4 separate regions of the Homo sapiens genome follow, and regions 1, 2 and 3 are each linked to region 4. The links come from fine-mapping of genetic effects on gene expression. A gene starts in region 4. Each other region holds a variant in brackets. All regions are shown on one strand. Distances are from middle to middle.

What was found. PIP is the estimated chance that this variant, and not a neighbour inherited with it, causes the effect. A credible set is the group of variants that fine-mapping cannot tell apart.
Region 1: its variant is the best candidate, but not a certain one, in a credible set for the expression of SEC14L5 in whole blood (INTERVAL, PIP 0.61).
Region 2: its variant is the best candidate, but not a certain one, in a credible set for the expression of SEC14L5 in sun-exposed skin (GTEx, PIP 0.86).
Region 3: its variant is the best candidate, but not a certain one, in a credible set for the expression of SEC14L5 in iPS cells (HipSci, PIP 0.90).

Annotation. Positions count from the first base shown.
Region 1 is chr16:5,014,453-5,022,553 of GRCh38, forward strand. It overlaps SEC14L5 (SEC14 like lipid binding 5), which reads left to right. Exons shown (of 16, transcript NM_014692.2): 16 at 407-4,705. The coding sequence ends at 518. Among named protein-coding and RNA genes, the nearest start is that of NAGPA-AS1, 15 kb to the right of the region's middle. The variant A/G (reference allele first, on the strand shown) is at 4,297.
Region 2 is chr16:4,931,667-4,939,767 of GRCh38, forward strand. It overlaps PPL (periplakin), which reads right to left and starts at 5,482. Exons shown (of 22, transcript NM_002705.5): 1 at 5,318-5,482. The coding sequence starts at 5,379. RefSeq lists a silencer at 5,425-5,824. The variant A/T (reference allele first, on the strand shown) is at 5,056.
Region 3 is chr16:4,986,538-4,994,638 of GRCh38, forward strand. It overlaps SEC14L5 (SEC14 like lipid binding 5), which reads left to right. Exons shown (of 16, transcript NM_014692.2): 3 at 1,020-1,169; 4 at 1,612-1,743; 5 at 4,230-4,358; 6 at 5,301-5,493. Among named protein-coding and RNA genes, the nearest start is that of SEC14L5, 32 kb to the left of the region's middle. The variant CTT/C (reference allele first, on the strand shown) is at 4,625.
Region 4 is chr16:4,953,549-4,961,649 of GRCh38, forward strand. It overlaps SEC14L5 (SEC14 like lipid binding 5), which reads left to right and starts at 4,782. Exons shown (of 16, transcript NM_014692.2): 1 at 4,782-4,897; 2 at 5,725-5,838. The coding sequence starts at 5,776. RefSeq lists silencers at 4,667-4,876, 4,675-4,970 and an enhancer at 4,774-5,309.

The sequences.
Region 1 (8,101 bases), 61 kb after region 4:
TGGGGGAGGAGAGAATGGGCTTCTGCCTCAGGCTCAGCGCACACGAAGGCCACTGCAAGAGCTAGGAGGAGGACCATGGAATTTGAGTGCAAAGAGTAAGGAGGGAGTGAGACTGGAGACAGGGCCGGGGACTCCCTGGGCTGTGGCGGCCTTAGGGCCATGCAAGGGCCTCAGGCCAGGGGAGCCCCTGATGGGTCTGTGGCAGGCTGGGCTCCATCTGGGGAGATGGGAGTGTGGGGAATTCGGTAGTGCTTTTCTCTTCATGGCGTCACTTGCTTTTCCCTTTGCATCGGCCTGGGGCCCTGGGGCCTGATTTGCAGCATCAACAGCTTTTCCACTGCTGTGTGTCAGCCCAAGGGCCTTGTCACTGTGAGAGGGTAACGTGTGCCACGCCCTTCCTCCCCAGGGGCTCCATGTCCAGCCTGGAATCCTGCACCAGCGGCTTCTCCCAGCTCAGCGCCGCCACCTCGTCCTCCTCCTCCGGCCAGTCTCATAGCAGCTCCCTGGTCTCCAGATAGCCGGGCCCAGTGTTTCAGGGCCGCCCGCTCGCCTCCAGTGTCCAGAAATGTCCAGAATGAGAAGCCAGCTAACTGCAGGGCCTGGGACCATGTGGGCTGGAGCCCCAGGCCTAGATGCTGCCCAAGTTGGGGTGTCTGGAGCGGATGGCAAGGATCCAGAACTGGCCTGTGGGTGGTGTCAGGGCTCTTGAAATTGCAAGGACAGAACCATCTCCTTCCGGCTTCGTGTAAGGAAGACCAAGCCAAGGCCAAGGTGTCTACCATACCACACCTTTGGGACATCCGGGCTTAGCGACGTCAGCCAGGCCCATCTCCTCTCTGTCCACCTCTTGCTCTGCTTTCGCCATGCAGGGGACCATCACTATCAGGTGCCCTTCTCCTCCCTGCAGCTTGCCTGCATAAGAGAGCCTCTTCCTCCCAAAGGCTCCAGCCCACTTCCCAGAGCTGAGTCTTAGCCTGGAAGGGGGAGCGATTGCCAGGTCAATTCCTGAACCAATCACAGTTGCCAGGCACACTGGAGAATGCTGATTGGCCAGCAGGGTCATGCCCAATCTGGACCAATCACCGTGATCCAGGGTTGCAGTGAGGTGCAGTGATTGGCCAGCCTGGATCACATGCACATCTCTGGAACCAACCACCTGCTCTCAAAAGCACTAGTGGGTGCCTCGAGGAGTACTGGGGTCCCCCCTAAGAAGAAGGAGGAAGGATGCTGGGGAGGCAGAAATGAAGGGTGTTTACCTTGGCATCTGATTGCATAACGTTCTGTTATGCAGTATCAAGATGTGCTTGGTGAGCAGTTAAGTGAGTTACAGGCGCTGCTCTTTGTGGGGAACAGCACATCCTGAAGTGAAAATCCATGTTCCCTGCACTTGGCCAGCATGGCCTAAGCCTGACCATCCCTGATTGGAGAGGGTGGGAGAGCCCTGGGTTTCTGCTAAGTTCCAGGCAGTGATGGGGTGACTGAGGCTGTCTGTATACCCCACTGGAGATGCCTTTCTCTCCTAGGGAACTGTTTAATTATGACTGTTTTTGGTTGTAAGCCACAGAGACCCATGCCCAGGTGCTTCAACACAAAAGCATGATCATTCATGGGTGCATAGAACTGGCCAGTCCAGGAGGGCTTGCTTCAGGTAAGGCTAGATCCAGGGTCTCAACATGGAGTCTCGATTCCCCCCGCGAGTGGAGGCTGCTGTGTTTGCCCTGGGGCAGATATGACTCTGGAACTAGGTTCAATATTGACATGAGTTCCCCTAGTTACTACACAGGAGCGTCTTGGGTCTCCTTGGGGCCTGAGGACATTTCTCCTTTCCTTTCCTGGACTCCCCAAAAGGCAGCCAGTCAGGGGTCACCAACTTGAAGCCTGATCTGGCCTGCTTTTAGTGTTGCTTTTTTGCCTTTAGAATGGTTTAAAAATTGAGGCATTTCGCATCGAAATCAGGATTTCTGGCTTCCCTTAGGCATTTGGGAGCACCAGCAGAATGGGGTCACTATTGTTGCATGAAGACAACACCTCTGCACCCCTGGATGTGGCCACGCCAGTCCCTACCCCATTGACTTGCGCCCAGCCCACATTACACATCCTCATGACCTGCGTGGCAGGAGTCTCACTGACATGGCTCTGTCAGCAGTGGCTGGTACCCTTGTCTCCTGGCCTTGCTTAGAGTTGGGGCTCATCTCTGCTGCAGTAACTGAGCCAAGGGGTGGTTTTGTGGCCACAAGAATCATCTTTATGCAGGCTCAGCAATGCAGGGCCAGGAAACTTATATCTACGCCAGCCTCAACCCCAAACCCAAGGAAGAGAGAAAGTGTCATCTTTTCAGATACATCCTTCTTCCTGCTGGGAGAGAGCCTTGCCCACCTTCCTGTTGGCTCTCTGTCCGCTTCTCAGGTATCTGAACAAAATAGATTGCTTTGCACTCTGCGTCAAGGTGTGTGTGCACATGTGTGCATAAGAGACCGACTGATTGGAAGGAGACGTTCTCAAAACTAATTGCTCCCATATCACCAGGCATTTATTGCTGAGAGCAACTTGCAATATTTTCAACTATCTTTAAGTGAATTTCTAGCTTTTCTCTTAAAAACTAGGTGTTATCCTACAAGTATGCTGGGATAAGCTGCCCTGGCAGTCTTTATACATTTATTGTCTAGCCCCAGAGAAGGACACAGAAGCCTTTTACGGAAGGAAGCTGGAACTGCCTGTTCCAGAGGCGGGTGGGGGGAGGGGAGTCTGCTATCAGCTGTCCACCCTTAACAGTGGGGGTGAGGAACCTCAGGCCCTTTCAGTTCTGCTCTTGAGAGTGCTCTCTCCCTAGGGAAAACCAGCCCAAACTGGCTTAAGCAACAAAGCAAATTCCCTGGGTCCTGTACTAGGGATGGCTGAAGGTGGGTGCTGCTTCAGATATGGCTGGATCCAGGAGCTTAATGTCCTCAGGCCTCTCAACTGCACCCAGGCCTCTTGACTCTGCATCTCTTTGCATGCTGACCTCATTCTTTCTTCCACCTGGCGGGAAAGATGGCTGCCAGCAGCCCCAAGCCTATAATTTCAGGATTCACACTCTAAGAGATGCTTTTCCATCTCAAATCTCATGGAAGGCTCTGATTGGCCCAGCTCGAGTCACATGCTTATTCCTGTGGGCCACACTGGCAAGGAACTAGGGTCCCGTGATTGACATTCCCTGCAGAAGCCGCAGCAGGATTGGGGAGGGCCATTCCCCCAATGGACAAGAGAAGCTGGACCACAGAACCAGCAGGTATCCATGGTGGCATCTGCTACGGCCGGCTCTCCTCCCATGTGGAGGTCTCGGGGACCCACGTGGAAGCATTATCAAGGTCATTCTTCTTGCCTTCGGGAGGACTGGAATTAAAAATAATCCAAGGAAGGGATTGCCAAGCTTTTGGCTTTTGAATTTCCCCTGAGCCACAAAGGCTGGAAGTGCCTTGGCTTGGGCTTCTTGCATCATTAGTTCATTAATCCATTGTGACCAGGACAGAAGCAACCCACAAGCAGCATTACTGTTGGTGTTTGGGCACCTGGGCCTTGAATTTAGGCCAGGACTCAAACCCCAGCCTTCCTTTCACTAGCTGTGTAACCTTGACCAGGTGACTTAACCTCTCTGTGCCTCAGTTTCCTCATCTGTAAAGTGAGGATAGCAGTGCCTACCTCAATAGGTTGTAGTGGGACGAAATGAGGGAGTAGCTGTAAAGCTTTCAGCACAGCTCCCAGAACACAGAAAGCGCTCCATTAATGTCAGTGGTCATTCTGATTACTTAATGCTTCGCATCCAAAGACTCGTTTTCTTCCTGAGGTCGCCTATCCCTGTTTTTCGTTATTGCACCCAGAGAAAAGTAGGTGTCAAGAATTATTGCCCTCTGAGTTGGGTGTGCAGTCTTTCTCTTTTAGAAACTGCTTGTGTGGGCGGGGCGTGGTGGCTCATGCCTATAATCCCAACACTTTGGGAGGCTGAGGCCGGCTGATCGCTTGAGTGCAGGAGTTCAAGACCAGCCTGGGCAACATAGTGAGACCCTGTCTCTACAAAAAATTAAAAAATGAGCCAGGCGTGGTGGTGCGTGCCTATAGTCTCAGCTGCTCGGGAGGCTGAGGCAGAAGGATTGCTTGGAGGTCAAGGCTGGAGTGAGCCATGATCTCACCCCTGTACTTCATCCTGGGTGACAAAGCAAGACCCTGTCTCAAAAAAAGAAGAAAGAAGCTGCTTGTGTTTTCTGGGTAAGTCCACCCATCTGAGGGAGTGTATTCTGAGTGGTATTTCCCTTGGCAGTT[A/G]GAAAATGTTTTTTCCCAGAGGTTGAAGTATGGAGAGTTTGAGACTCTTTTTTTCTACCCTGCACTCTCTGGAATTCCCCCTCCCTGCTGTAAAATTTATTGTCCAATGAGAATAGTATAATTGTTTTCAACAAAGTCTCTTTGAGCCAGTGAAACACGATGGGTTTTTTTGTTTGCCTGATCACTTGCTCCAACCAGCAGCATTAAATGTTTTCCATTTGGATAAACTTGCATCGTCAGCTTCCTAAAACCCTGGAGGTTTCCCGTGGGCTCGTTCAAGAACTTTCCAGCTGTTGTTTAAAAGACTTTAGAGCTAGCTTGTTCAGCCTGTGGCCTGCAGGCTGCACGCGGCCCCGGACTGCTTTGAATGTGCTCCAACACGAGTTCGTAAACTTTCTTAAAATACTGAGGTTTTTTGTGTGTGTGTTTTCTTTGTTTTTTCAGCTCATCAGCTATCATTAGTGTATTTTATGTGTGGCCCAAGACAATTCTTCTTGTTCCAATGTGGTCCAGGGAAGCCAAAAGATTGGACACCCTTGCTTTAGAGCATTTGCAACCGGAGTGATATCACCCCCAAGGGGCTGCATATCTGTTTAATGCAGGTATAATTGTGTATCATATATATTGTATACATATGTAATGGATTGGATAGCATGTCCCCAAATTCATGTCCACCTAGAACCTTAGAATGTGACCTCATTTGGAAATAAGGTTTTTGCAGGTGTAATTAGTTAAGGTTCTCAAGATTGGTTATTGGGCCGTGTGAGGGAGGATCACAATTTTTATATATAAAGCAGAAATAGGCCAGGCGCAGTGGCTCACGCCTGTAATCCCAGCACTTTGGGAGGCCGAGGCGGGTGGATCACAAGGTCAGGAGATTGAGACCATCTGGCTAACATGGTGAAACCCCGTCTCTACTAAAAAATACAAAAAATTAGCCGGGCATGGTGGCGGGCGCCTGTAGTCCTAGCTACTCGGGAGGCTGAGGCAGGAGAATGCCGTGAACCCGGGAGGCGGAGCTTGCAGTGAGCCAAGATTATGTCACTGCACTCCAGCCTGGGTGACAGAGTGAGACTCCGTCTCAAAACAACAACAACAGCAACAACAACAACAGGAATGTTCTGGAGGCTGGAAGTCCGGAATCACCATGGAGGTAGGGCCCTGCTCCTTCTGAAGGCTGTAGGGGAGGACCCTTCCTTGCCTCTTCCAGTGTCTAGTGGCACCTCGTGGCTTGTGGTTGCATCACTCCAGTCTCTGCCTCCATCATCATATGGCCTTCCTCTCTCTCTGTGTCTCCTCTTCTTGTAGGGATGCCAGTCATTGGATTTAGGACCCATCCTAAGTCCAGTATAACGTCTTGAGATCCTTAACTAATTCCACCTGCAAAGATCTTACTTCCAAGCGAGGTCACATTTTAAGGTTCCGGATGGACATGAATTTTGGGGCATGCTACTCAACTTATTATGTATGCATACAATAGCTAACCAGATACACAGTTATATCTGCATTAAACAGATATGAAAATCCCTGGTGCCCATCTCTCCTGGGCTGCCCTGCCCTCCCCCTGGGGTTTTACCAAAGTGCCAGACCTGGTGTCCTGGAGAGCTGCATCCCAAAACAGCCACAGTCCTGACGTCAGAAGGTTGTGATGAACCCTGTCCAGGGTGCCACCTGTCCTTCCCGTGAGCTCTCTTGGGGCACGGAGAGTGGAGCTGGCTGCCACACAGATCCTGGGACTCTGAAAAGCCTTCGTCGTTTTGGAGCTGGTGGCTGGGGTTGTCATTTGTGAGAGCAGAGCAGGTGTGGTGTTTTGTGTGATGGCACGAGGGCCATCTGTCCACCCAGCTTCTGCTCCCCAGCCCTGCCCAGCACAGCTCGTCAGGGGAGAGGAGGCGGCTTGCACTTGCGTGTGTTCATGGGCGGTGACTCTTCCGTGGATTTCTCTGGAACTGTGGGTGGCGGGTTTCAAAGGAACAGCCAGCTGACTCGTGGGTGCGGCGGGTATCGAGAAAGAACAGCCCTGTGGGGGAAGATGGAGCTCCGGAGGGTGGGCGGGAGCTGGGATCAGGCCTGAGCTGTGGGGCCCTGCTGATGCCTGTCTCAGCCACAGCGCTTTCCTTGGAGGCCTCCTGGGGCCTGGACCCAGAGCGAGCAAAACATGCCCAGGGCTCCCTGTGGCCCAGAGGCTGCCTCTGGGATCAGTTCTTGGGGCACAGACCCCTGGGACCTCTGCGGAGCCAGGTTGGACGCAAGCAGCTGCAGTGGGAGCTGGGGTAGGGCCTGGGAGGAAGGGAGCCCAGGGCCTCCAGGGATGTCAGAGGCTGTGGCTACCAACTTCTCCCTCTCACTTCCCTGCCTCCCTTAGTGCCCAGCCCCCAACAAGGCATTTTGGAGGAATGCGGATCCCCAAAAGTCACATTTTTTTTTGAGACAGGGTCTCACTCTGTCACCCAGGCTGGAGTGCGGTGGCATGATCATGGTTCACTGTAGCCTCAACCTGCCGGGCTCAAGCGACCCTCCCACCTCAGCCCCAAGTAGCTGGAACCACAGGTGTGCGCCACCATGCCTAATTCTTGTATTTTTTTGTAGCGGCGGGGCCATGTTGCCCAAGCTGGCAAAAAGCACAATTTGAAACCTCTAAGCCAGGATTTTTTTTTTTTTCCGGACACAGACTGCTTGGAGAATCCCATGAGAACTCAGGACACACACACGAATTTCATTTGTTTTGGGGCCCCAAAGAGTCCTTGAAAGCCCACCCATTGACGCCAGGATGGGAACCTTTCTGGGGTCTTTCCGAATACTAAAGTTCTGTGCAGAGCACCCCAGAAGCTGAGACGTGTCACCATGGCGATGGCCCAGCATGTGGAACTCTCAGGGTTCCCAGTTGAGCTGCAGAGACTTCAGTGTGCAGTCCAAGACCACCGTGCCTGTGCCTGGGGGTCTTGAGTCACTACTGTGGGTGGGGGAGGGGACCCTTATGCTGCTGGGATCGGAGCACATGAATCCCCAGCCGGCTTGCCTGCAGTTTGATGACTTTAGCTCTTGTATATTTGTGTCCCCACCAGCACCATAGGTTGGTACTGGAATCTCAGACACTTCTGCCTCCTGCTCCATGTCCTATCTAAGGTCTGCCGTCCAAAATCTAAATGCCTGAGTCCCAAAATGTGCCTCTCCTGTAACAATACAAGTGTCACACGTTTGGGTTGCCGGAGACCCCAAAACCCAATACAAATTGCCTCAAGCAAAAAATGGGAATTTATGGGTTCATGTAATTCGGAAGTCCAAGAATGATCTGGCTGGCTTCAGGTATAGCTGGATCCAGGCATTCAAATCATGTCCCCCCACCCCCACCCCAACACCCTCAGTCTAGTCGTTTTCCACACTGGCTCACCCGCTCCATCTCTTGGTTCTGATCAGGTCTTCTCCACACTGGAGAAGAGTTGGTTTCCGTTCCTCCTCCTTGTGGCCCACCTTGGCCCACCTTGTGGCCCTCCTTGTGTCTAACCTTGGAAGTTAGACAGTCCCAGCAGAGAGAGTTTCTTCTTCCAGCTGCAGCAGAAGTTCCACGATGGGCTCTGACGGGCTGACCCGGGGCAGGTGCCTAACTCTGGACCAATCTCTCAGGCCCACCTGCAACTTGGGGTGAGAAGACAGTGCCACCCAAACCACCTGGATGGAGAATGGGGGAGAGGTACTACCCTGATAGCAACACGCTAGAGGCTCACAGCCAGGGCTCCTGGGTTTTGGGGTCTCCGGCAACCCAAAACGTGTGACACTTGTACTGTTACAGGAGAGGCACATTTTG
Region 2 (8,101 bases), 22 kb before region 4:
TCTTCCCCAGACGAGGAGCTTTGGAAGCTCTCTAAAGCAGCTTCTCCCCCAGGTCCCCTACTTCCAGGGCCTCCCCCAACCACACCCTTAGGGTATTGCTTAAAGGGTGTGGACGGAGCTGAGTCTCTCCCCCAAAATACCCTTTCCCAACATGATCCGCCCGACAGTGCCTGAAATGCTACCATTAGCAGCTGTTCCTCCAGGTAAGCTCAGCTCTGTCCTGAATCGAATTTATCCAGTCTCATTCCTTCTTCCAAGAGAACTGGGCAAGGGATGGAGGGGCAAAGCTAGAGAGAAGAGAGGTAGAGGGGGTTGCTGGGGGTAGAGGCAGTGAGCACAAACACCAATGACTCTACCATTTGGCCTGGAGCAGTCCCCAGGCACAGTTGCTGCCAGATCCAGGTACGAGTGGGGAGGCCTCATTTGCTTCCCCAGGCCCCCCTGGACTTCCAGCATCAGCCATTTGTGAGCTGTGAGCTCAAGGTGAATGTGAGCCCTCTGTGAAACAGGACACTTCCACCTGCATGGCAGGCCCGCTGTCAGAATGAGATGTAACATCCATGGCCTTGCTGGGCTCACAGTATGTGCCTGAGAAATGGCGGGGCGGCTCTCTCTAAGCTGTTACCCACATGGGTCCCCTCCCATATCGATCAGGCGTTCCTACCAACACTGATCGATGGGTGCATGTGCGTGTCTGCTTGAGTCAGCTCCCTGGTCAGCTCTGGGCTTGGCTCAGTCATGAATCTTTTTTTTTTTTTTTTGAGACGGAGTCTCGCTCTGTCTCCCAGGCTGGAGTGCAGTGGTGTGATCTCGGCTCACTGCAATCTCTGCCTCCCAGGTTCAAGTGATTCTCCTGCCTCAGCCTCCCCAGTATCTGGCTGGGATTACAGGTTTCCGCCACCACACCCAGCTAATTTTTAATATTTATTTTTGTAGAGATGGGATTTCACCATGTTGGCCAGGCTGGTCTTGAACTCCTGACCTCAAGTGATCCGTCCGCCTTACCCTCTCAGAGTGCTGGGATTACAGGCGTGAGCTACCGCGCCCAGCCCGTCATGACTCTTAATAGCAGTGTGTGCTTCCTAGTATTGGCTGCTATGATTTGCCGGGCACTCGCTCTGAACCAGGTCATGGGCTGGACCCATCATGTGCATCCCCTCATTTGATCTACCCAGCAGCCTCACCAACTGGGGGTTGCTGTTGTCACCCCACCTCATAGATGAAGAAACTGAGGCTCGGAGACATTAAGTGACTTGCCCAAGATCAAACAGCTTAAGAGACCCAGAGCTGCGGCCTGAACTCATGCCCAGCTAGCATCAAACACTGTGTTCTTGCTTTTTTTTTTTTCTTTTTGAGACAGAGTCTCACTCTTTTACCCAGGCTGGAGTGCAGTAGCACAATCTCAGCTCACTGCAACCTCTGCCTCCCAGGTTCAAGGGATTCTCCTGCTTCAGCCTCCTGAGTAGCTGGGACTACAGGCACCCACCCCCATGCCCAGCTAATAAAACACTGTGTTCTTAACCACTAAGAGGCTCAGGGTACCCCAGGTGCCTCCCAGTAGAGCATGCTTCCCTTTTGCCAGCTCTCCCCTCAAAGCCTGGGGTCCTGCCTCCCATGCAGGAGCGCTCCATCAGGGCGGCCCCAGTGTTGCAAGACCCGTCTAGGCAAGGCCAGGCTGCTGGGTGTTTACTGGGACCCAGGTCTGGGTGGAGGGGCAAGATTAATCCCATTCAACAAATTCAGAAGCGCTGGGGCTCAGGGATGCTATGTTTCTTTTCAAGCAGAGGCAGAATTGAGCCTGACTGCAGAGCTGGGTCTTGGCCACTCCATCCCACCCCGTGACAGGTCAGATGCCTCCTCTGTGAAGTCCTCCCTCACCTCCCAGCATCTGTGCTCTGACTGTGACAACTCTCACTTGAGGCCTGTCACAAAGTATGTGAGTGGCCAGGGTGGAGACCTCATCTGTCCGGCTCTATGCTCCATTGCTCCTGCCTGGCCCCATCAGTCCGACGCTCATGTAACCATACATGTACTGAAGCTTAACTCCATCTTATCTCTGTGATGTGACTGCCAGCGACTCAAGTGCAGGGAGGTTGTCCACGTCTCCTCCACGACCACGTGCTAAAACCCAGCAACAGTGCCTATGGAATTGTGCAGTGCACAGCCTGTCCACCATGATATCAAGTTTAACCCTGGGTACACCACAGCTAGCTTGCCCGCATTTGCTTAATAACTGTAATCGTCACAGATGCTATTACCTGCGGCCGCTTATCATTCACAACCTTTCCCCTGCATTATTTCATTTAATCCTGAGCCAACATCGCCAGGCAGGCACCGTGCTTATTCCCATCCCACAGGTGAGAAAACAGGCTCAGAGAAGCCAAGCAGCTCCTCTGAGGTCGCACAGCCAGGAGGGTGGCAGCGGGTCTCCTCCAGGGCCTCTCTACTAGGCTGGAGGCTGTCCTCGGTCACCTGCACCATCTGGCCTGACTCTGTCATTAGCTCAGGTGTGAACATCAACTCCCACACCTGTCATTAGGAACCCGGGCAACGGGAGCAACGGGGTTCACACCCTGTCCCGGCCCTCCCCAGCTTCAGCTGCTAAAAGGCAGACAAACTGGAAGGGGTGGCTTTCTCGGTGGGGTGTTCCGTTCACTAATCCACACTTTGTAGTCCAAAGGCCTGACTACCTTGGGTATGAAAGTCACCACTTGGGGCTCCTGGGTCCCCTGGGCTCGGAAAGGGCTGCTACCCTCATCCGGGCACCTCCTGTGTGCTACAGCACTGCTCCTCCCAGCAGCCCTATGCATGAGACACTCAGTATTACCACCCGTGCTGTGCAGAAAGGGAAAACAAGGCTTCGAGAGGCTCCAGGGTGGAGATGCCAGGATCAACAGTGAGGCATTCTGCTCTCAGTGCTGGAGCTCCTACTGCCCCCCATGCTGAATCTCACCAGCAATTTTGTCCTCCCCCAGACAATGGAGCGGGCCCCTGGAAAACTCAGAGTGAAGGAATAACTTGGGGATCCACTCCCTGTGACCAGCGACCACAGCCTAGAGCCGCAAGTCTGTCCCCTCCACCCCCCCACCAAGACACTTGCTATGGGGCTGGCTGGGCATCAGGCAATGTTCAAGAGATGCGTTTGAGAGGATGGGGTACAGGGCTACCCCCACCCCACAATCCAGTCTGCGAACTAGTCCCCACTAAGGGGAGGGGGCAGAGGGATGCACTGGGCTTGGAGACCACCCGGGGAGGCATCTGACATCTGCTCAGGGCTGTGGCTGTGCTCATTCTGTGCTGGGGTGGCAAGGCTCAAAGGAATGGTCTTGCACCCCAGGCTGGGGAGAGAATCAGGAGGGCTTCCTGGAGAAAGAGACGTCTAAATGGAGATCTGGGACCAATGGCTATCAGCCTAGGACAGACCGTGGCTGCCTTGGGCCAGATATACAGAGAGTGGCAGGACCCCAAATCTTTGCCACCCCAGACCCTCCCAGTCCCTGCAGCTATAAAGGATGGGATGCCTTTCATCCTCATGCTTCTGGGAAAGCCCGCACCCCTCCCAGCTTGTCTGGGTTCATTAGAACCTTTTGTTAGGTCCAAGCTGGGGCCTTCAGGATGGAGAGCTGCACGAAGGAGGGAGGCTGGGAGGAGGCAGAGGGCGGGGCGAGGCCTGGCCCCACCACTGGTATGTGGGTGTCTGCATGTGTGAAGGACTGGATGGGTCTAGTCTCTGGGGTGGAGAGGACAGAACGGTTCTCCACGGCTGGCACGGAGCATCCAATTGTGCAATGCCCCAGGGAACAGTGCAGGGACTGGACGGGCCTCTGGTTGGGTCTGAGTGCCAGCTGGACGCAGCCATGGAGGAGGGGTGTGCAGGCCCTGCCCAGTCTCTGGGGTTGTGAAAGATAGGGGAGGGGTGGGGAAATCTCTAAAGGCGGGTAATGCCTCTGAGCTTGAAAGAGCCCAAACGGAGATACGGGTGGGTGGGATCACAGGGCAGGGGGGTTTCTGAAAGGGCTGGAAGGCCCCGGAATGGAGTGTCGCACTCCAGCGTGCTAGGGCCCCGCCGCCTGCACCTGTCCGACTGGTCGGCCTAGGCCGGACTGCAGGGGTTGAGTGGGAGCCCTGGGCCCAGAGGCCTCTCCTTGCCTAGGGAAGAAGTGAGGAGCTGCTTGAGGGCACAGTGGGGGCTCCCAGTGAGAGCAGCTTGGGGGCAGAACTCCCAGACAGGAGAGCCATGTAATGTGCGGGCCCCTCACCTGCCTGAAGCCTCTTGTCCGAGAAGCTGGCAAAATGGTCCTTGCTAGCCCAGAGCCCCCACTCTATTTTCCGAAGTGGGGATATAAGGCAGGGGCTGGATTCCCACCCCCTCCGTCAATCTCAGCATCTCCACCAGGCTCCCCTAAACCGGTTATTAAGTGAACACATTAGGCTTATCAAAAGGGACGTGGGCTGCTTCTCCCTGCAAACACATCAAGACATGCCATTCCCCTCCCAGGCCGCCCTGGGAACCCGCGGCTCAGAGACGCCGCCAGTTTCGGGGCTGGGGTGGGGGCAGGGAGCCACACCCCTGCGAAACCGAGCTTCGAAGAGGAGGCCCCGAAGCCGCCCAACCTCCGCTCAGAACCCAGAGGGTGGGGAGGTAAGGGGGTGCCTCCCCCTGTGCCCCTCGACCCGACCCCACACCCCCCAGGGCCTCCGGGCGCGGCTCTGGCGCGCAGGGTGGCAGGTGCCGGGAAGTGCAGCGGCGGGTGGCCCGCCCCCTCCGGACACCCATCCCTCGCCTCCCCGACGCCAGGAACACTTGCGCGGTCTCAGAGGCGCTGGAGAGCGCCCCCCGACGCCAGCTCAGTTTCCCTGCCTCAGGGCGCCCCCTGGACGGAGCTTCCTGGGTCGCCCGCAGCGACCCCGCCTTGAGTGCCCGGTCCTCCAAAAACTCCGCCCCCTCATCCAGGTGACTATTCCCGGTCCTGTGCGACCCTCTGCGCAAGAGCGACCCTGGGACACGGGGGTGCCCTGTACCCCCAGCTCAGCTGCCCGTGCCCTAGGCCCTCA[A/T]GGCAATGCTCCCTGGGCTCCCGGAGTCCCCTGTGTTATGCTCCCCCTCGGGGACCCCAGCCAGTCCCTTCCCACCTGGCGGCGCTTCCCAGCTTCAGGGTGGCCTCGGTCCCGCGTTCCCGAGAGTCCCGCACTCCGGGTTCAGTTCCCGGTTCCTGGACCCCCGTACCCCCCATTCCTACACTGCCCGGGAGGTCTTCCAGGTCCTGTGCGCCCACAGGGGCAAGAGCGTCCCGGAGCGGAGCTGTGGGCGCCTCCTCACCTCCGGGTCTGCACAGTGGGGCTGTATTTGCCTTTGTTTCTCTTCCTGAAGAGCGAGTTCATGGTGGCGCTCGGGGTGCGGGCGGCGGCGGCTGGCGGGCCGGGCGCGCACCGAGGGGCGGGCGGGAGCGCAGGTGAGCGAGCGGCGGCGCGGGGAGCCCGGACTGCGGCGCGGCAGTGGCTCCGGGTCCCTACTCGCTGGGGGCGGGGCGCCCGCCGGCCACTGGCTCTGCGGGCCGCTCCCCGAGAAGGTGGTGCTTACCTTCCCGAGGAGGGGCCACCGCGCGGGCGGGGCTTGGACGCGGGGGTGGGGACACTGGGTCTTGGCCGGACGCCGCCCACCCCCAGCCGGGGGACTCCGGAGGCCGGGCAGGCACTGGGGCGCAAAGGCCGCCGGGGCGAGCGCTCGCAGCCCCACCCTCCTCGGGCCCGGCGCGCCTCTGGCCGAGGCCTTCACCTGGTTCTGCGCTACCGCGGAACTCGGCGCTCCTGGTGCTTTGGCGGACACCCAGCTGGGCCCCGCAAGACAGGTGCGGCAGAGACCCGCACGGATTCATGTGCCCTAGTAGCTAGCGAATTGCACTCAGATGGTGGCAATTGAGGGAAGGGGGCTGAACTGCCGAGGGCGCCGGCCTGAGTTCAAGCCCTGCCACCCCCAGGTTGGCTGACACTCCTGGGCAAGGTGTTTTACTGCTCCCAGCCACAGTTTACTTCTTTGTCAAACGGTGATAACCACCACCCCATCCGAAAGGCCTGTGGGGATGTCCCTGCAGGTAATGCACGCAAAGCGCTGAGCGCAGTGCCCTGGCCTGAATCTGCTCTCCGCTTGCCATCTCGGGTGGACAAAAACTCCTTTGAAACTTCAATAACTCCAGGCCCTGGCACTAGAAGAGCGCTTCATAGCTGGTCATAAAAGCTGCTCGATTGCGGCTCAGAACAACGACGTTGCACAATTCTGCCAGCATGTCCTGGCCCAGACTGTGTGCCAGTGGAGGAGGCTGCCCTTAGACAGAAACCTAATCTGACCTGAAGCCCGGATGGCACACACCACCACACCTGGCTAATTTTTAAAAATTTTTGTAGAGGCAGAGTTTCACCATGTTGCCCAGGCTGGTCTTGAACTCCTGTGCTCAAGTGATCTGCCGGCCTACAGCCTCCCAAAGTGCTGGGATTACAGATATTAGCCACCGTGCCCAGCCAACCTTATTCTTAATGGGGCTTCTATGGGTGGGCTTAACCCATTTATGCCTGAGGTTGCAATTTTTTGAATTGATAAATCATACCTTGGCAGTGACCTTGAGCAGTAGGAGATAACTCCCACAGGCGTCACGTTCCAATAATGGACCACTAGGCGTAAATAGAGGTGTGATTCCTCCTAAAGTTGTGCCTGCCTGCCTGCCTTCCTTCTTTCCTTCCTCTCTCTTTCCTTTCTTGCTTTCTTGCTTTCTTTCTTCTTTCTTCTTTGAGACTCAGTTGCCCAGGCTGGAGTGCATTGGCACAATCATAGCTCACTGCAGCCTTGACTTTTGGGGCTCAAGCAATCCTCCCACCTCAGCTTCCCGAGTAGCTGGATCCACAGGTGTCCACCACCACGCCTGGCTAATTTTTAAAACCTTTATATTTATATATGTTTTTTGTAGAGATGGGGTCTCGCTGTGTTGCCCAAGCTGGTCTTGAATTCCTGGGCTCAAGCAGTCCTCCCACCTTGGCCTCCCAAAGTGCTGGGATTTCAGGTGTGAGCCACTGCACCCAGCCCTAAAGTTGCTTTCAAAATGTGTGTGTCCAAATGTGCATTTTTCTGGGGGAGGATGTATTGCTCAGTGGAGTCATTTACTCATTCAACACATGTTTCCCATCACTCTCACAGCCTCAGTGTGCCTGGCTCTGCTTGTTGTACACGGATGAGAAAAGGGAAAAGAACAACACAAAAGGGGCTTTCTCTTTGGGAGCTTTCAGGTCCCGGGGCAGGGGACACATATTAAAAATGTTAACTTGGATGGGCGCGGTGGCTCACTCCTGTAATCCCAGTACTTTGAGAGGTCGAGGCAGGGGGATCACCTGAGGTCAGGAGTTCAAGACCAGCCTGACCAACATGGTGAAACCCCGTCTCTCCTAAAAATAAAAAATTAGCTGGGCGTGGTGGCGCCTGCCTGTAGTCCCAGCTACTTGGGAAGCTGAGGCAGGAGAATCTCTTGAAACTGGGAAGGGGAGGTTGCAGTGAGCTCATATCACGCCACTGCACTCCAGCCTGGGAGGTCACAGTGAGCTGAGATCGTGCCACTGCACTCCAGCCTGGGCGACAGAGTGAGACTTCGTCAAAAAACAAAAACAAAAACAAAAACACGTTAACTTTTCTTTTTCTTTCTTTTTTTTTGGAGATAGGGTCTTGCTGTGTTGCTCCGGCTGGAGTGCAGTGGCGTGATCATGGCTCACTGCAGCCTTCCTTGACCTCCCAGACGGAAGCCGTTGTCTCTTCTCAGCCTCCCTCTCAAGTAGCTGGGACCACAGGTGTGCACCACCATGCCTGGCTAATTTTTTTTAAATTAATTAATTATTATTTTTTTTTTGACAGTCTGGCTCTTGTCGCCCAGGCTGGAGTGCAATGACACACTCTCGGCTCACTGCAACCTCTGCCTCCTGGATTCAAGCAACTCTCCTGCTGCCACCACGCCCTGCTAATTTTTGTATTTTTAGTAGAGACAGAGTTTTGCCATGTTGGCCAAGCTGGTCTTGAACTCCTGACCTTGTGATCTGCCTGCCTCAGCCTCCCAAAGTGCTGGGATTA
Region 3 (8,101 bases), 33 kb after region 4:
ATGAATTTTGGGATAAGCTTGTCAATTTCTGTAAAGAAGTCAACTGGGATGTGGATATTGTGTTGAATCTGTAGACTAGTTGGGGAATATTGCCATCTTAACAATGTTAAGTCTTCTGTTCCATGAATATGGGATGCCTTTCCATTTATTTAGGGCTTTAATTTTTTTCAGCAAATGTTTTGTAGTGTTCAGAGTATACATTTTACACTTCTTTTTGTTGAATATATTCCTAAGTATTTTATTCTTTTTGATGTTGTAAATAGAATTTTTTCATTTTATTTTCAGTTTGCTCATTGTTAGTACATAGAAATACAACTGATTTTTCTATATTGGTTTTATATCCTGCAACCTTGCTGAACTCATTGATTAGTTCTAATCTTTTTGTGTGTACGTGTGTGGATGCTTTAGGATTTTCTATATAAATGTTCATGTCATCTGCAAATACAGATAGTTTTACTTCTTCCTTTCCAACTGGATGGCTTTTATTTCTTTTACTTATCTAGAACCTCTAGCACAAGCTCGAATAGACACGAAGAATGCACATTGCTACCTTGTTCCTGATTTTAGGGGAAAGCACTCATTCACCAGGGATGTTAACTGTGGCTTTTAGCAGATGGCTTTACCAGGCGGAGGAAGTGCCCTTCTATTCCTAGTTTATTGAATCTTTTTTTTTTTTTTTATCATGAAGGGGTGTTGGATTTTTCTCAAATGCTTTTCCTGAGAAATACCTTATTTTAAAATGTCCCCAGAGTCCCTGTGCTTCCTTCTGAGGGCAAAAACTCAAATGCAGAGGCAAAACTTATGTGCCAAATCATTGTCCAGGCTCTGCTGTGTTGGGCTCTAACAGGTGCTAGCTGGTGGAACGATTGTTGGTAATGACGGCAAAATCCCTGCCCCTTCCAGTGGCCAGGGCTGCCTTTCCCGTCTGATAAGTGACACAGCAGATAAGGAGGTCGCGCTGGGGGGGGGGGTCCCTCTGCCCCCCCCACCACGGCCGCTCACTGCCGCTCTGCCCCCAGGCCTACGAGAAGCGTTTCCCCACGTGCCCACAGATCCCAGTCTTCCTGGGCAGCGAGGTCTTGCGCGAGTCCCGCAGCCCGGACGGGGCTGTGCACGTGGTGGAGCGGAGCTGCCGGCTGCGCGTGGACGCCCCGCGGCTGCTGCGGAAGGTGGGCGGCCCTGGGGCTGGGGGGCGGAGGAGGGGACCTGTTGCGGAGGTGCGGGAGGGCTGGGCGCGGGAGCTGGGGACCAGGGCGGCGGGGTCCAGGAGGTGGAGCAGGGGCGTGTGAGTTGATATTTGGATGGAGGTTCCAGGATGAGGGTGGCGGGACCAGGGCCCAGGAGGGGCGAGGGCTGGAAGGCTGGGCTGGGGAGTAGCGGGAACTGGGCGGGGTTCGCGGGGCCAGGGCCGGAGCTGGGTGGTGAAGATGGGTTGGCGGCAGGGCGGAAGTCGGGGGTTGGTGTCCTGGGTCCGGGCTGGGTGGGCGGTGGCGCAAGGGACCTGGGACTCAGGGCAGGGGGTGACTGGGGCAGGCCCGCCGGACTCGCTCTCCATTCCTGTGTGCTCCACGCCGCCCACCCACCTCCGCCTCCCCGCCCCTTCCCTTGCAGATCGCAGGTGTTGAGCACGTGGTCTTCGTGCAGACAAACATCTTGAACTGGAAGGAGAGGACGCTCCTCATCGAAGCGCACAATGAGACCTTCGCCAACCGCGTGGTGGTGAACGAGCACTGCAGCTACACGGTGAGCCCAGGCCACCCTCAGCGCCCACGCCCGGCACCCACCTGCGCCCGGCACCCACCTGTGCCCAGAGCTGTGTCCCCACATTCCTTGAGCCTCTGCCAAGCCCTCCCTCCTGGGGCATTGTCAAGAAAGATGCAGGATGCTTGGTTGCCTTTGCATTCCGATGAACAACCCATAATTTTTTTAGTATGTCTCAAATATTGCTTGGGATATACTTATACTCAAATGTTATTTGTTGTTTATTTGAAATTCAAACGTGACTGGACATCCTGTGTTTTATCTGTTAAATCTGACAACCCTATCCTCTCCCTCCTCTTTCCCCTCCCTCCTTTCCTTCCTTCTTTCATTAAATTATGCCTCAGTTTCCTCACGTGTGAAATGGGCTTAATAATCATGCCTACTACACAGGTAGTATGTGGCGCCTTTAGACCAGTGCCTGGCACATATTAAGTTCTACGTAAATGTTACCTTTGACTATAATTAATAATAATCATAATTATTCTCTAGTATATACTGATTGAGCACCTACTATGTGCCAGGCACCCTGCCAAGTGATGAGCACCCAGCAGTGGACCAGGCTGCCTGACCACTGCCCTCACGGAGGGTCCATTCCAGTGGAACAAAACGGAATCAGTGTGTGTGCATTTGTCACAGCTAAGGCTGGATCCAGCAGGGAGATGTGTGGGAGTCAGAGAAGGTGGTAGGGGCACTGAAGCTGAGTGCTGAAGGATGAGAGGAGCTGCTCATGGAGGACTGGGAACAGCATTTTGGGGGTGGGAACAGCATGAGTGAGGTCTGCCAAGGTGAGGCCATGGGGCCTAGATCTTGATGACTTTAGAGGCTGGAATGAGGCACCTGCAGGCATTCACTGATGGGACCCAGCTCTGCCACTTTCTTGCTGAGTGACGTTGGGCCACACTGTCTGTATCTGTAAAATCGGGACATTGGCAGATCCTGCCTTGCTGGATCGTTTTCACGATGATAACTCCAGGATAGCAATGGTAGACCATTGTACGTGTTTTTTTTTTTGTTTGTTTGTTTGTTTTGTTTTTTTTTTTGTTTGTTTTTTTGAGAGACAGTCTCGCTCTGTGGCCCAGGCTGGAGTGCACTGGCATAATCTTGGCTCACTGCAACCTCCGCCTCCTTGTTAAAAGGATTCTCTTGCCTCAGATTCTCACGCCTCAGATTCCCGTGTAGGTGGGATTACAGGCATGTGCCACCACATCCGGCTGATTTTTGTATTTTTAGTAGAGATAGGGTTTCTCCATGTTGGCCAGGCTATTCTCAAACTCCTGGCTTCAAGTGATCCACCCACCTTGGCCTTCCAAAGTGCTGGGATTACAGACATGAGCCACCGTACCCGGCTCCATTGCCTTTTCTTTCTACGCCTCCAACTCCTCTTGGGTCCTCCAGGAGCTTGGGCTCAGGGTGTTCAGATCTTCTGGGGAGGGGCAAGCAACAGTTGTTGAAACCCCTCTTAGTGTGTGTGGTGTTTCTCAGAATGAGTTCTATCAATAGCTGAGTCAGCAGCACCTGGGGCTGCTTGCGAAATGCAGATTCCTGGGCCCCAACCTGGAAGTGTCTAGGGGCAGGCCCAGGAATCTGCATATTTTAACAGACTCCTTGGTAATGTTTCTGCCCACAGACGTTTGAGGAGGACTAGGTCTGGATCCATAAAGGAGCTCTGCCAATGAAGTTTTCTTTTTGCAAACATACAGATCTATAAATGTTTATTGATATATAAGGATATGTAATATATCTTTATATAGATAACATATAATATACAACTATTTAAAAAATCTATATCTAAATTTTATGTGTAATATTGATATATAATTTATTTATAGATTATATAAATGATACACTGAACAATTGTATTTATTTTATTATTTTTTTTTTGGAGATGGAGTCTTGCTCTATTACCCAGGCTGGAGTGCAGTGGCATGATCTTGGCTCACTGCAACCTCCGCCTCCCAGGTTCAAGCGATTCTCCTGCCTCAGCCTCCCGAGTAGCTGGGATTACAGGCACCCACCACCATCTCTGGCTAATTTTTGGATTTTTAGTAGAGATGGAGTTTCACCATGTTGGCCAGGCTCGTCTCCAAGTCCTGACCTCAAATGATTCGCCCACCTTGGGCTCCCAAAGTGCTCGGATTACAGGCGTGAGCCGCCATGCCCGACCTAAACATAAGTATTTCTAACTAATTTTCTATGTATGTGTATAATATTGAAAGGGCAGGGCTGCAGATTTGAGACCCACATTCTCCCGGCTTCTCATGAGAAGGCTTTTTGTTCCCTGACAGTTTGAACTTTGCATCGTTCTCTGGGTGGGGGCCCCTTGGTCCTGCTACCCCATCCAGGGTTGCCAGGCTTGATCTGCTTTCCACTGCAGGCTCTGCCTGGGCCCAGGTCAGTGGGAGAGCCCTAGGGGAGGGCAGGGTGCCCCCGACATTGAGTCCCTGGCATGACCCCTGCCTGGCTTTCAGGTCCACCCTGAGAATGAAGACTGGACTTGCTTCGAGCAGTCTGCCTCACTGGACATTCGGTCTTTCTTTGGCTTTGAAAATGCCTTGGAGAAGATCGCCATGAAGCAGTACACCGCCAACGTCAAGAGGGTAAGCGGTGGGTTGCGTTAGTTACTGGAGGAAGGTGCACACACCTGCTCTGCCATCAACAGCTGCATGACCCCTGGCAAGACCCTTACCCTTCCTGGGCTCAGTGTTATCTGTTAAATGGGTACTCTAGTAATGACCAAATCACCACGAGATAATGGATGGAAAGTAACTGGTCTGTAACAGGGGCACCCTAATCCTCGCTCTGGCACCATGAGATGTCCAGGCTTATGTGGTGAATTATCTGGACAACAGATAATTCTGTGGTG[CTT/C]TTTTTTTTTTTTTTTTTTTTTTTAGATAAAATGATCATTGCTTGCTCTAAAGACCTCAGATCCATCCCTGAGTAAAAACCCGTTCTTGTGATGAAACAGATGAAATTAACTTTAATAACAAATTTTTAAACAATGTGTTATCAATATAAAACTTAATTCTCCGAGGTTGGAGGCCCAGTTGAGCCCAGGAATTTCAGAGCAGTCTAGGCAACATAGTGGACTCCATCTCTAAAAAAATAAAATAAAATAAAATTAGGTGGGTGTGGTGGTGTGTGCCTATAGTCCCAGCTGCTCAGGAGGCTGAGGCAGGAGGATCTCTTGATCCTGGGAGGTTGGGGCTGCAGTGCGCTGAGATGACACTACTGCACTCCAGCCTGGGCAACACAGCAAGACACTGTCTCAAAAAAAATAAACAAAAACAAAAACAACCCCCAACCCAAAAAACTGATTACTGAGCTATTTTGCATTCTTTGTTTCGTACCAAGCCTTGGAAATTAGGTGGGTGTTGGACACTCGCAGCTTCTCTCCATCCCGACCAGACACATCCAGCCACTCAATAGCCACGTGTCGGGGCTGGGACCTGAGCCGGCTGGGGGTGACTCCCTGTGGTGATCCTGTGACCCCCCTCCATCCTGCCCCGTGCTCATGTGTCTTGGGTCTCTCTGGCTTCCAGGGGAAGGAGGTGATTGAGCATTACCTGAATGAGCTCATCTCCCAGGGTACCTCGCACATTCCGCGCTGGACGCCTGCCCCAGTCCGTGAGGAGGATGCCCGCAACCAGGCTGGACCGAGGGACCCCAGCTCCCTGGAGGCCCACGGGCCCCGTAGCACCCTGGGGCCCGCTCTGGAGGCGGTCAGTATGGACGGTAGGTGGTACAGCCCAGGCCAGTCAGCCCTAGGAGGCTGCTGCAGGTCCTCTTGCTCCATGGGGGGCCCTGGGGCATGTTGGGGAGAATTGCCTGCCGTCCCCCCTGGGAATGGGTCTGGGTCTTGGAACGACACCGCCTCCTGCCTCCACTGAGTGCTTTTCTCTCTCTCCATCCTGGTCCAAGAGCAGAACTCATTTGTTTCTTTTCTTTTCTCTTTTCTTTTCTTTTCTTTTTTGAGACGGAGTCCCCCTATGTCTCCCAGGCTGGAGCGCAGTAGCACGATCTCGGCTCCCTGCAACCTCCGCCCCCCGGGTTCAAGTGATTCTTCTGCCTCAGCCTCCCAAGTAGCTGGGATTACAGGCATCTGCCACCACACCCGGCCAATTTTTTCTATTTTTAGCAGAGATGGGGTTTCACCATGTTGGTCAGGCTGGTCTCAAACTCCTGAGCTCAAGTGATCTGCTTGCCTTGGCCTCCCAAAGTGCTGGGATTACAGGCGTAAGCCGTTGCACCCGGCAAAAACTCATTTATTTCTAGATCAGGAATTAACCTCTGGTGCCTTGACATTGCCTCTTTCTCTGGTTTTACTATTTACTAACTTAGCAATTATTATGAATTTACTAATTATTACGATTGCTATTGCTATTTTAAATTATACGAGTAATGCATGATCATGGTAGAAAAAAATTCAAACTGTAAGGAAGATGTAAGAAGTACGATTCTTTTCCTCTCCCTAAAGGCTAACAATAGTTTTGTGTTTCTATGTCCTGAAGCTGTTTAGGTGCATATATGCACATAAAATGTATATATACCCACACACATATGTGTGTACATGCATACATACATGTGTGTCTTATGTTGAATACGTGAGAACATATACATTCCATTTGATATTTTGCTTTTTTTTCACTTACTAATGTTGCCTGAAAAACTTTCTGTATCAGTGCCTATGTCTTCTTTTCATACTTCATAGTATGGTGTGGTTGCACCATAACTAATTTATTAATAAATATTAATTATTTATTTAGAGACAGGGTCTTGCTCTGTTGCCCAGCTTGGTATGCAGTGGTGCAATCGTGTCTCTCTGTAACCTTGAAATCCTGGGCTCAAACGATCCTCCTGCCCCAGCTTCCTGAGTAGCTGGGACTATATAGGCACAGGCCACCATGTCTAGATAATTTATTTTTACTTTTATTTTATTTTTAATTAATTAATTAATTATTTTTGAAGTGGAGTCTCACTGTGTCACCCAGGCTGGAGTGCAATGGCACGATCTCAGCTCAATGCAACCTCTGCCTCCCGGCTTCAAGCAATTCTCCTGCCTCAGCCTCCTGAGTAGCTGGGATTACAGGCATGTGCCACCACACCTGACTAATTTTTAAATCTTTAGTGGAGACAGGGTTTCACCATGTTGACCAGGCTGGTCTTGAACTCCTGACCTCAGGTGATCCACCTGCCTTGGCTTCCCACAGTGCTGGAATTACATGTGAGCCACTGCCCATGGCCTTGATTATTTTGAATTAGTCTATTTAGCTAGTTCCCTATTGAAGGAAACAACCCTATTTAGGTCGTTTCAGTTTTTAAAAATACAAACAACATGGTACATGTGAGTACTTAATAATTTTTTTAAAATGTCTGTAAGTATATACAAAGCATAACATTTTAAAAGTGGAATTGCTGGTTCAAAGTTTACATGCAAGTAAAATTTTGGTAGATTTAACCATTAGGCTTCCAATGAGGTTGTACCAATCATTGTTCCCACTGAATGTGTAATTGCATCTATTCCTGACTTCACTCCAGCTCCCCACAAAAGTCTTAGTAAACATCTCAAACTTCTGAAAGGGAATAAAAGTAGTCACTTGTTGATTAGTGACAAGTTTTTTCATTATGAGCAAGATCAGGCATGATTTTTCATGTTTAGTGACTGTTTTCCTTTTTTTTTTTTTTTTTAATAATACATACTTGTTCTTGTCCTTTGTCCATTTTCTTATTTGCCCATTGCTTTCTTATTGGTTTGTAAGAGCTCTTTGTATATGAAGGCAACTAGCCTTTTGTCACAGTTCAAGCTTTTATGGACATGGAAAATGTTTACAATATAATGTTAAAAGGAAAAATCCTAGGATACAAATTGTATGTACACCACAAATCCAGTTCTAGCCATGTGTAAGATGTGTACTCAGGTTGATAATGTTTTTCCTTTAGGGCCACTGCCGTGCAGGGACTTCCCTAACTCTGACACACTTGGGTGGCAGTGCCATGGAACTAATAATACATCTGGGGCTCTGTTTAGGGAGAATGAAATTCATTCATACAACATGTATTATTCTTTTTCTTTTTTTTTTATCTGTCACCCAGGCTGGAGTGCAGTGGTGTGATCTCAGCTCACTGCAACCTCCGCCTCCTGGGTTCAAACGATTCTCCTGCCTCAGCCTCCCAAGGAGCTGGGACTACAGGCGTGCACCATCATTCCCGGCTAATTTTTGTATTTTTAGTAGAGACAGGGTTTCACCATGTTGGCCATGCTGGTCTCGAACTCCTGACCTCAAGTTATCCTCCTGCCTTGGTCTCCCAAAGTGCTGAAATTACATGCAACAAGTATTTATTC
Region 4 (8,101 bases):
GTTGTGCAGGTTACAACCTATACACCTGTACGTAACAGCCCTGCCAACCATCATGATAGCCCTGGAGATTCCCAAATCCAGGAGGCCTCAGGGCTCTGCTTCGAGAAGGGGCAAGAAGCAACACAACGTAGAGGCCACCCGGGACGAATGAGATGTCCCCCAGGAAGCAGATAAACAGATGGATGGTTTCCAGGGGCTGCGGGAAGGGAGGAAGGAGGAGTGACAGCTTCATGGGTATGAGTTTCCTTTTGGGGTGATGAAAATGTTCCAAAACTAGAAAGTGGTGCTGGCTGTACGTGCATCTTGTGAATATACCAAAAGCCAGAGAATTGTACACTAAGAAATGGTTAAAATGGTAACTTTTGTGTTATGTGCATTTTTTTTTTTTGAGATAGAGTCTCGCTCTGTCACCCAGGCTGGAGTGCAATGACATGATCTTGGCTCACTGCAACCTCCACCTGCTGGGTTCAAGCAATTCTCCTGCCTCAGCCTCCTGAGTAGCTGGGATTACAGGCATGCAGCACACTAAGAAATGGTTAAAATGGTAACTTTTGTGTTATGTGCTTTTTTTTTTTTTGAGATGGAGTTTCTCTCTTGTTGCCCAGGCTGGAGTGCAATGGCATGATCTTGACTCACCGCAACCTCTGCCTCCCGGGTTCAAGCGATCCTCCTGCCTCAGCCTCCCCAGTAGCTGGGATTTCAGGCATGCATCACCACACCCAGCTAATTTTGTATTTTTAGTAGAGACGAGGTTTGTTCATGTTGATCAGGCTGGCCTCGAACTCCCAACCTCAGGTGATCTGCCCACCTCGGTCTCCCAAAGTGCTGGGATTACAGGCATGAGCCATCGTGCCCAGCTGATTTTTTTCTTTTTTTTTTTTTTTTTTGAGATGGAGTCTCACTCTGTTGCCCAGGCTGGAGTGCAGTTGTGTGATCTCAGCTCACTGCACCCTCCACCTCCCAGGTTCAAGTGATTCTCCTACCTCAGCCTCCTGAGTAGCTGGGATTACAGGCATGCGCTACCATGCCTGGCTAATTTTTTCATTTTTAGTAGAGACAGGTTTTTGCCATGTTGTCCAGGCTGGTCTCGAACTCCTGACCTCAGGTGATCCGCCCACCTCGGCCTCCCAAACTGTTGGGATTACCGGCATGAGCCACTGTGCTCGGACCATTTTGCCACAATAAAATTAAGCTGGGGACCGTACCCTGCTTACTGCATCTTCTTCAGCTTCAGAGCCATCCCAGGGCCCATTATGTATTCCAGGGTCTTAACCCCCATTCTCAATGTCACACTGAGCCATTCAACTCAGGACATTCCCAGCAGGATGCCTTCCAGGAACATCTGCCTTTGGATGGGGTCCAGAGTTTTACTCAAACAAATGCATCACTAATGGTTGAATCTTCTCTGGCAGTGGCCCATCTGCTGGGAAGACATTCAGAGACATGAGGTGGTTTCTGGGGTTCCCAAAACCCACCTCCACAAAAGGCAGCATTGGCTGGGTCATTCTTGCAGGGCAGGTGGGAAGCAGCAGATAGAGGCTAAAGATCCTGCCCTGGGACTGAGTTCATGCCCAGCACCCCTGGGGAATCAGCCTATCCTTGCAGCGCCTTCTTGTCCTGGAGCCAGGGTGCCTGGAGATCTTGCAGTTCAGGGCTTGGAAATCACATCTTCCCGGAGCATCAGCTGCAGCTCTAGGAGAAGAAGTCATTGGAGAACGAGAGTCCTGGGTATGAGTTCCTTACTAGCTGTGTGGCCTTGGGCAAGTTATTCAGTCTCTCTGTGCCTTGTGCCTTAGTTTCCCTACGTGTAAGATGAGGATTAAAATAGTTTTGACTGTATATGGGCTTTTAATTGAGATGAAAGCCACGTAACAGAAAATTAATCATTTTAATATTGTGGCCCCAATTCAGTGGCATGTGCATTTGCAACGTTGTGCAACCACCACCTCTATCACATTCCAAGACATTTTCATTGCTCTGGGGTTGCTTTGAGGATTAAATGCATTCGTGTTTGTAAAGCTTTAGAATGGTGCTAGGTATAGTAAGCGCCAATGGAGTGTCAACAAGTGGTAGGAATAATTAGTAGAACAGTAATAATAGGCAACTGGGCCAGGTGTGGTGGCTCATGTCTGTAATCCCAGCACTTTGGGTGGCTGAGGCGGGTGGATCACCTGAGGTCAGGAGTTTGAGGCCAGCCTGGCCAACATGATGAAACCTGTCTCTACTGAAAATACAAAAATTAGCCAGGTGTGGTGGCAAGCGCCTGTAATCCCAGCTACTCGGGAGGCTGAGGCAGGAGAATTGCTTGAACCTGGGAGGCGGAGGTTGTAGTGAGCCGAGACTGCGCCACTGCACTCCAGCCTGGGCAACAGAGCAAGACTCCACGTAAAAAAAAAACCCCAAAACCCAAAAAAAGCTGGAGTGAGTGTTGGTGGCGTTATTAATTCCCTTCCCTGGGGCTGGAGGAGGAGGGAGTGGGGTTCTCACTCCCCTCCAGGCCCCAGTTTCCACTTTGAGCTCTCTGTACCCGCAGGGCTGTCACACCTCTGTCTCCCACGCAGTCATTGTCCTCCCTCAATGTTGGGCAGCAGGAGAGGCGGACTTAACGCCTTTCGTGGTGGTAACAGCAGCTAACGGTGTTAACGTTCACTTTGCTCTGTGGCGATGCCTGGGCAGAGCTGGGCATTTCCTGGATGAGCCCGGGTTAGGACAGTCATCCCTGGATCCCATGTCCCCCACCTACTCACCCTTGTGTTACTCCAGGAGCCATGGGCTATCATTTGCTGCCACCTTGCGACAGGGATGGGAACTTTGTGTCCCATTTCCGCCCTTGATTACCTAAGCCAAGAGTCTGCTGGGCACCTGCTGCCTGCCTGCCAGGTCCCCAGTAAGATCCTTCCCAACATGCGGGCAGCTGAATAAGGCAGCCACTGCCCCTGCCCTCAGGGAGCTCACAGTCTCCTGAGAGAGACCTCCAGGAACCCACAGATATATAAAACGAATAAATGCAATATTAGAATGTGATGCAGGCTAGGAAGGGAAGAGAGGTGATTTTCACAGGGTGCAGTGACATACTTGAAATATATCAGGGGTTGTCCATCTCCCTGGCCACCTCTGACTTCCCCTGCTTGAAGGGGTGAATTCACCCCACGGTGGCACGTAGTAGGTGCTCAGTAAATGTTGAATGAGTGAATACATGGATGACAGCACTGTCCAGAGCCAATTTCTTGGGTCTTGTAGGCTAAACAGATGAGGAGTGGCAAGGCAGGACTTCTGGGAGCAAGGTTGGTCCCCTGGGAGTCCTGGGAGGGCTGAAAGGGGTTAAGTGTGAGTTAAAATGAGAGTGATGGACAAATGTCACTCTCCCAAGGGAGGCCCCCTTACTCCCTGTTTTATTTATTTATTTACTTATTTATTTTGAGACCGAGTCTTGCTTTGTTGCCCAGGCTGGAGTGCAGTGGCCAGGTAACAGCTCACTGCAGCTTTGAACTTCTGGGCTCAAGGGATCCTCCTGCCTCAGCCTCTTGAGTAGCTGGGACCACAGGCACGTGCCAACACGCCTGGCTAATTTTTTTTTTTTTTTTTTGCGACGGAGCTTTGTTCTTCTTGCCCAGGCTGGAGTGCAGTGGCGCAGTCTCGGCTCACTGCAACCTCCGCCTCCTTGATTCAAGCGATTCTCCTGCCTCAGCCTCCCGAGTAGCTGAGATTACAGGTATACGCCACCATGCCCGGCTAATTTTGTATTTTAGTAGAGACGGGGTTTCCTCATATTGGCCATGCTGTTCTCGAACTCCTGACCTCAGCTGATCTGCCTGCCTTGGCCTCTCAGTGTGCTGGGATTACAGGCGTGAGCCACCGCGCCCTGCCTAAACTAAAAAAAAATTTTTTTGTAGAGATAGGTTCTTGCTATGTTACCCAGGGTGGTCTCCAACTCCTGGGTTCAAGCGGTCCTCCCGCTTCCGCCTCCTAAAGTGTTTGGATTACAGGCGTGAGACATGGCGCCCGGCCTCTTACCTGTTTTAAATTGTCCTTTCTCTCCGCTGGCTCCTTGAGCCCCTTTCCTGCTTATTTTTCTCTCGTTAGAGTTTTTCACTACCTCACACATCATATATTTGCCTTATTTATTGAGTGTCTGTCTCCCCACCGTAGTATAAACTCCACGAGGGCAGGGATTCGTGCGTGTGGCTCACCGGCGGCTCTCCAGCGCCTGGACAGGGCTGACCCCCAGCAGGCGCTCTGTGAAGGTGTGCAGAGTGGGCGAAGGTGCATGCGCGGGCCGTGGGGCGGGGACAGGTGGAGGAGCCAGTCAGACCCAAGTGCAGCGGGACGAGGGCGAGGTTAATCTGAGCAAGAAAAGCGTAAATTCTGCTTATCTACAAATGTAAACAGTACTGTCGGCCAGACGCAGGGTCCGGGGCGGGTCGGCCCGGACTCAGGGTCTGCTTGGAGGCAGAGCTAGATTAGGGCGGGGTCGTCCTGTGGCCTACCATTCCCCGAGGCTGAGGGCCTTGGAGGGCGGGGCCAGTGAAGGGGGAGGGGACTTCCTGAGGTGTGACCAATCTAGAGAAAGGACTGGGCTGAGGGCGTGGTCAAACAAGCGACATCTAAAAATAAGGGGCGGGGCTAGAACCAGGGGGAGTTCGCCTGGGGCGGGGCCAGAGTGGGGCGGGACCAGTTAGGGGGCAGGGCCAACCTGGGCGGGGCCATGGCCGGGGACGTGGGCGGGACCAGGTCAGGGGCGGGGCCAGGCCAGGATCTCCGCTGTCCCGGGTCCTGGAGCTCTCTCGGCCCGGCAGGTTTCGCTCCCGCCCCTCCGGCCTTCCACAGCTGTCCTGGCCGCAGGGTGTTCAAGGCGGGACACACCAGGCTAGAGATCCGCGATCGGGCCCCGCCTCAGGTACTGCGCTCCAGGCCAGGCGGGCGCGGGTAAGCGCTCAGCTCCCGAGCCAGGCGGGCTTCCAGGGCACTTCCCCTAGGCTGCATTCCCAAAGGCTCCCGAGGGCGAGGGTGAGCAAAGCTGCGGGGACCTGTGTGTGCATGCGTGTGCGATTGCCTCTACGTGTGTGTACGTGTGTGTGCATGTGCGCACGGGTGTGTGTGCGTGTGTGCACGTCTGTGCACACCAGGGGAATTGCGTGCGTGGAGCTGGGCAGGTGCGTGTTTCAGGGTGTGTGTGCAAAGTTGGAGGCGTGTGCAAAAGCAGTCCCGTGTGGGAGGGAAACCTGCGTGTGTACATGTGTGTGATAGAGACAGTGCCTGTGAAATGTGGTGAAGGCTGTGTGTGTATGTCAGGGTGTCTGGGAGGAAAATGGGAGGGCAGGTGCAAGGAGACTCGGGGGTGGGCTGTAGGCCAGCAAGTCTGTGGCAAGCTGCGGGGTGCATGCGTGAATAGAACCGTGGGAGTGTAAGAATTGCAAATGTGTGTGTGTCTGTGTGGGTGGCCGTAAGGCTTCTGGGGGCCCTCAGTGTGAAGGGGTGGGGGTAGAGGAAAGTTTGGGGGTGCTGACTGCTCTTGGAAGGCTGAGCGTGGTCTGGGGCCATGGCTAATGACAGGGAAGCTGTTGGGGCTTGGCCTGGAGTAATTTGGGGGGAATATCAGCCTTCTCAATTTGAAGGCTGGGGAGCTGTGTGGGTGGGGCCAGGGGCTGCCCCTTACACTTGGTGGGTGGTGTCCCTGCTTCCCGAGGTGGGAGCTGCAACCTCACCAGTCACTCCTCGCCCCAGGCTCTGTGCACACCCCTGCCTGGTGACCTCCATTGGTGCTCCAGCGTGAACATGGTGCAAAGATACCAGTCTCCTGTCCGAGTCTACAAGTACCCGTTTGAGCTGGTCATGGCGGTGAGTGACTCCTGATTCTTGGGCCCCCATGTGACAGTTGGAGGGGCTTGAGATCAGCTATGGCGGTAGGAAGACGGAGCTCCTTAGACTCCCAGATCAGAAGGAATTAGTGAGTTACTCAGCTGACCTGGTGGGTTTAACTTCTATCCAGTGACCTCTCTGTCCAACCATCCTATCCTCGGCCCAGTGACCAAAACACAAAGTCTTTCTTCCTTCTCCTTGTTGAAGCTGACCTGCTCCCTTACTTTAGACTCTCCTGATAGAAAACAAAGGTATCAGGGGCCAAGCCACTGCTGTCATTTCATATAATGGCATATCACAGTGATAAATGGAATGGTGGTGATAATGACAACAGCTGTTTATTGAATGTTTACAGCACTGTCTTAACAGATGATGTTTCTTCCAATTCCCGATAGCTGTTATTTTCCCATGTAACCTCCATGAAACTGAGGCTTTGACAGGTGAAGGGATGACACTAAGTTCTGTATCTACGCAGAGGTGGAGTCGGGGCTGAGATCCCCACAAAGGAGACTCTAGAACCTCACATTTGACCACAGAGCCCTCCTTCTGCTCACAGACCCCCTTCCCTCCCCTTTAAGGAAGCTGACACTGGGACGAGAGAGAGAATGAGTGGGTAGGTTTGCTTTGTGATGTACTCTGTGTTGTGCAGCAAGTCAGTTGGAGGCCTAGAATTGGCTGCCAGATCCTTGGCCCCCAGGATCACTGGTCTTTTCACCCTGGGGGCAGAAGCTGGACATAGGTGGATGTGGAATTCCTTCTTGGCTGCATCCCTCTGCCTCTGAGCACTTCACTTCCCTGCTCAGTAACATGGGGACAATGCTACAAGGTTGCGGGGAGGAGTAAATGAGATAGTTCTTGGTGCTCCTTGCTGTGTGCCGGGCACACAGTAGGAGCTCACAAAATATGCTGTCGCTGTTATTACACCGAAGTCTTGTAAATTAATGTATTGAAAGTGTAAGAAACATTAGCATCCACCCCCATCTGTCCCACCCCAGCACTGACTGCTTAACCCCAGCCTTCTATCCAGGGACTTTCATATCTCTTGGTGGCTGTGTGTGCCTGTGTGTCCAGTCCTGTCTTATTCTATGAATCTACATGCGTATATGTTTATTGTCACACAGAGGATTTAAAAGCATCACCAAAATCATCCACATACCTTGTGCTGTTACAGGCAGATGGTTCTAGGACAGCAAAGAGGCAGGAACTGGCTTAGGGTCATATTCTAGCTCCCCAATTGACGAGCTGAGTGACTGTGGGGCAAGTCACTTCACCTCCATGAGCCTCCACTCCCCATCACCAATGGGAATCTCCTGGCTTCCAAATCCTGGTGTCATGCTGTGGATTAAATGAGTCAATGTGTATAAAGCTCCTGGTACGGGGCTGACGCAGATCAAATGCTCACTGAGATCCAGCTATGATCGTTACTGTTTTTGCAAGTGCCTGAGTGACTTTGCTTCTGCGTAATGGGAGTGGAACACCAGGGGATGGTGAAGAGATCCAGGGACGTGAATTCAGATGCTTTAGGGTTCTGCTGTGCTCTGCCATGCTCTGGTTGTATGTTTTTAGAAAGTTGCTGAACTTAAGCCGGGTGCAGTGGCTCACACCTGTAATCCCAGCGCTTTGGGAGGCCGAGGTGGGTGGATCACAAGGTCAGGAGATCAAGACAATCCCGTGTAACACGGTGAAACCCCAACTCAACTAAAAATACAAGAAAAATTAGCCGGGCGTGGTGGCGCGCACCTGTAGTCCCATCTACTCGGGAGGCTGAAGCAGGAGAATCTCTTGAACCCAGGAGGCAGACGTTGCAGAGAGCCGAGATTGCGCCGCAACACTCCAGCATGGGTGACAGAGCGAGACTCCGTCTCAACAACAACAACAGCAACAACAACAACAACAAAGTTGCTGAACTTTTCTGAGCCCCATTTTCTTTTACTTTTTCCAGACTGAGTCTCACTCTGTTGCCCAGACTGGAGTGCAGTGGTGCCATCTTGGCTCACTGCAACCTCTGCCTCCCAGGTTCAAGCCATTCTCGTGCCTCAGCCCCCTGAGTAGCTGAGATTACAGATGCACACCACCATGCCCAGGTAATTTTTGTATTTTCAGTATAGACGGGGTTTCATCACGTTGGCCACGCTGGTCTCGAACTGCTGACCTCAAGTGATCCACTAGCCTCGGCCTCCCAAAGTGCTGGGATTACAGGGGTGACTCACTGCATCCGGCCCCTATTCATATAGCCTTAAGT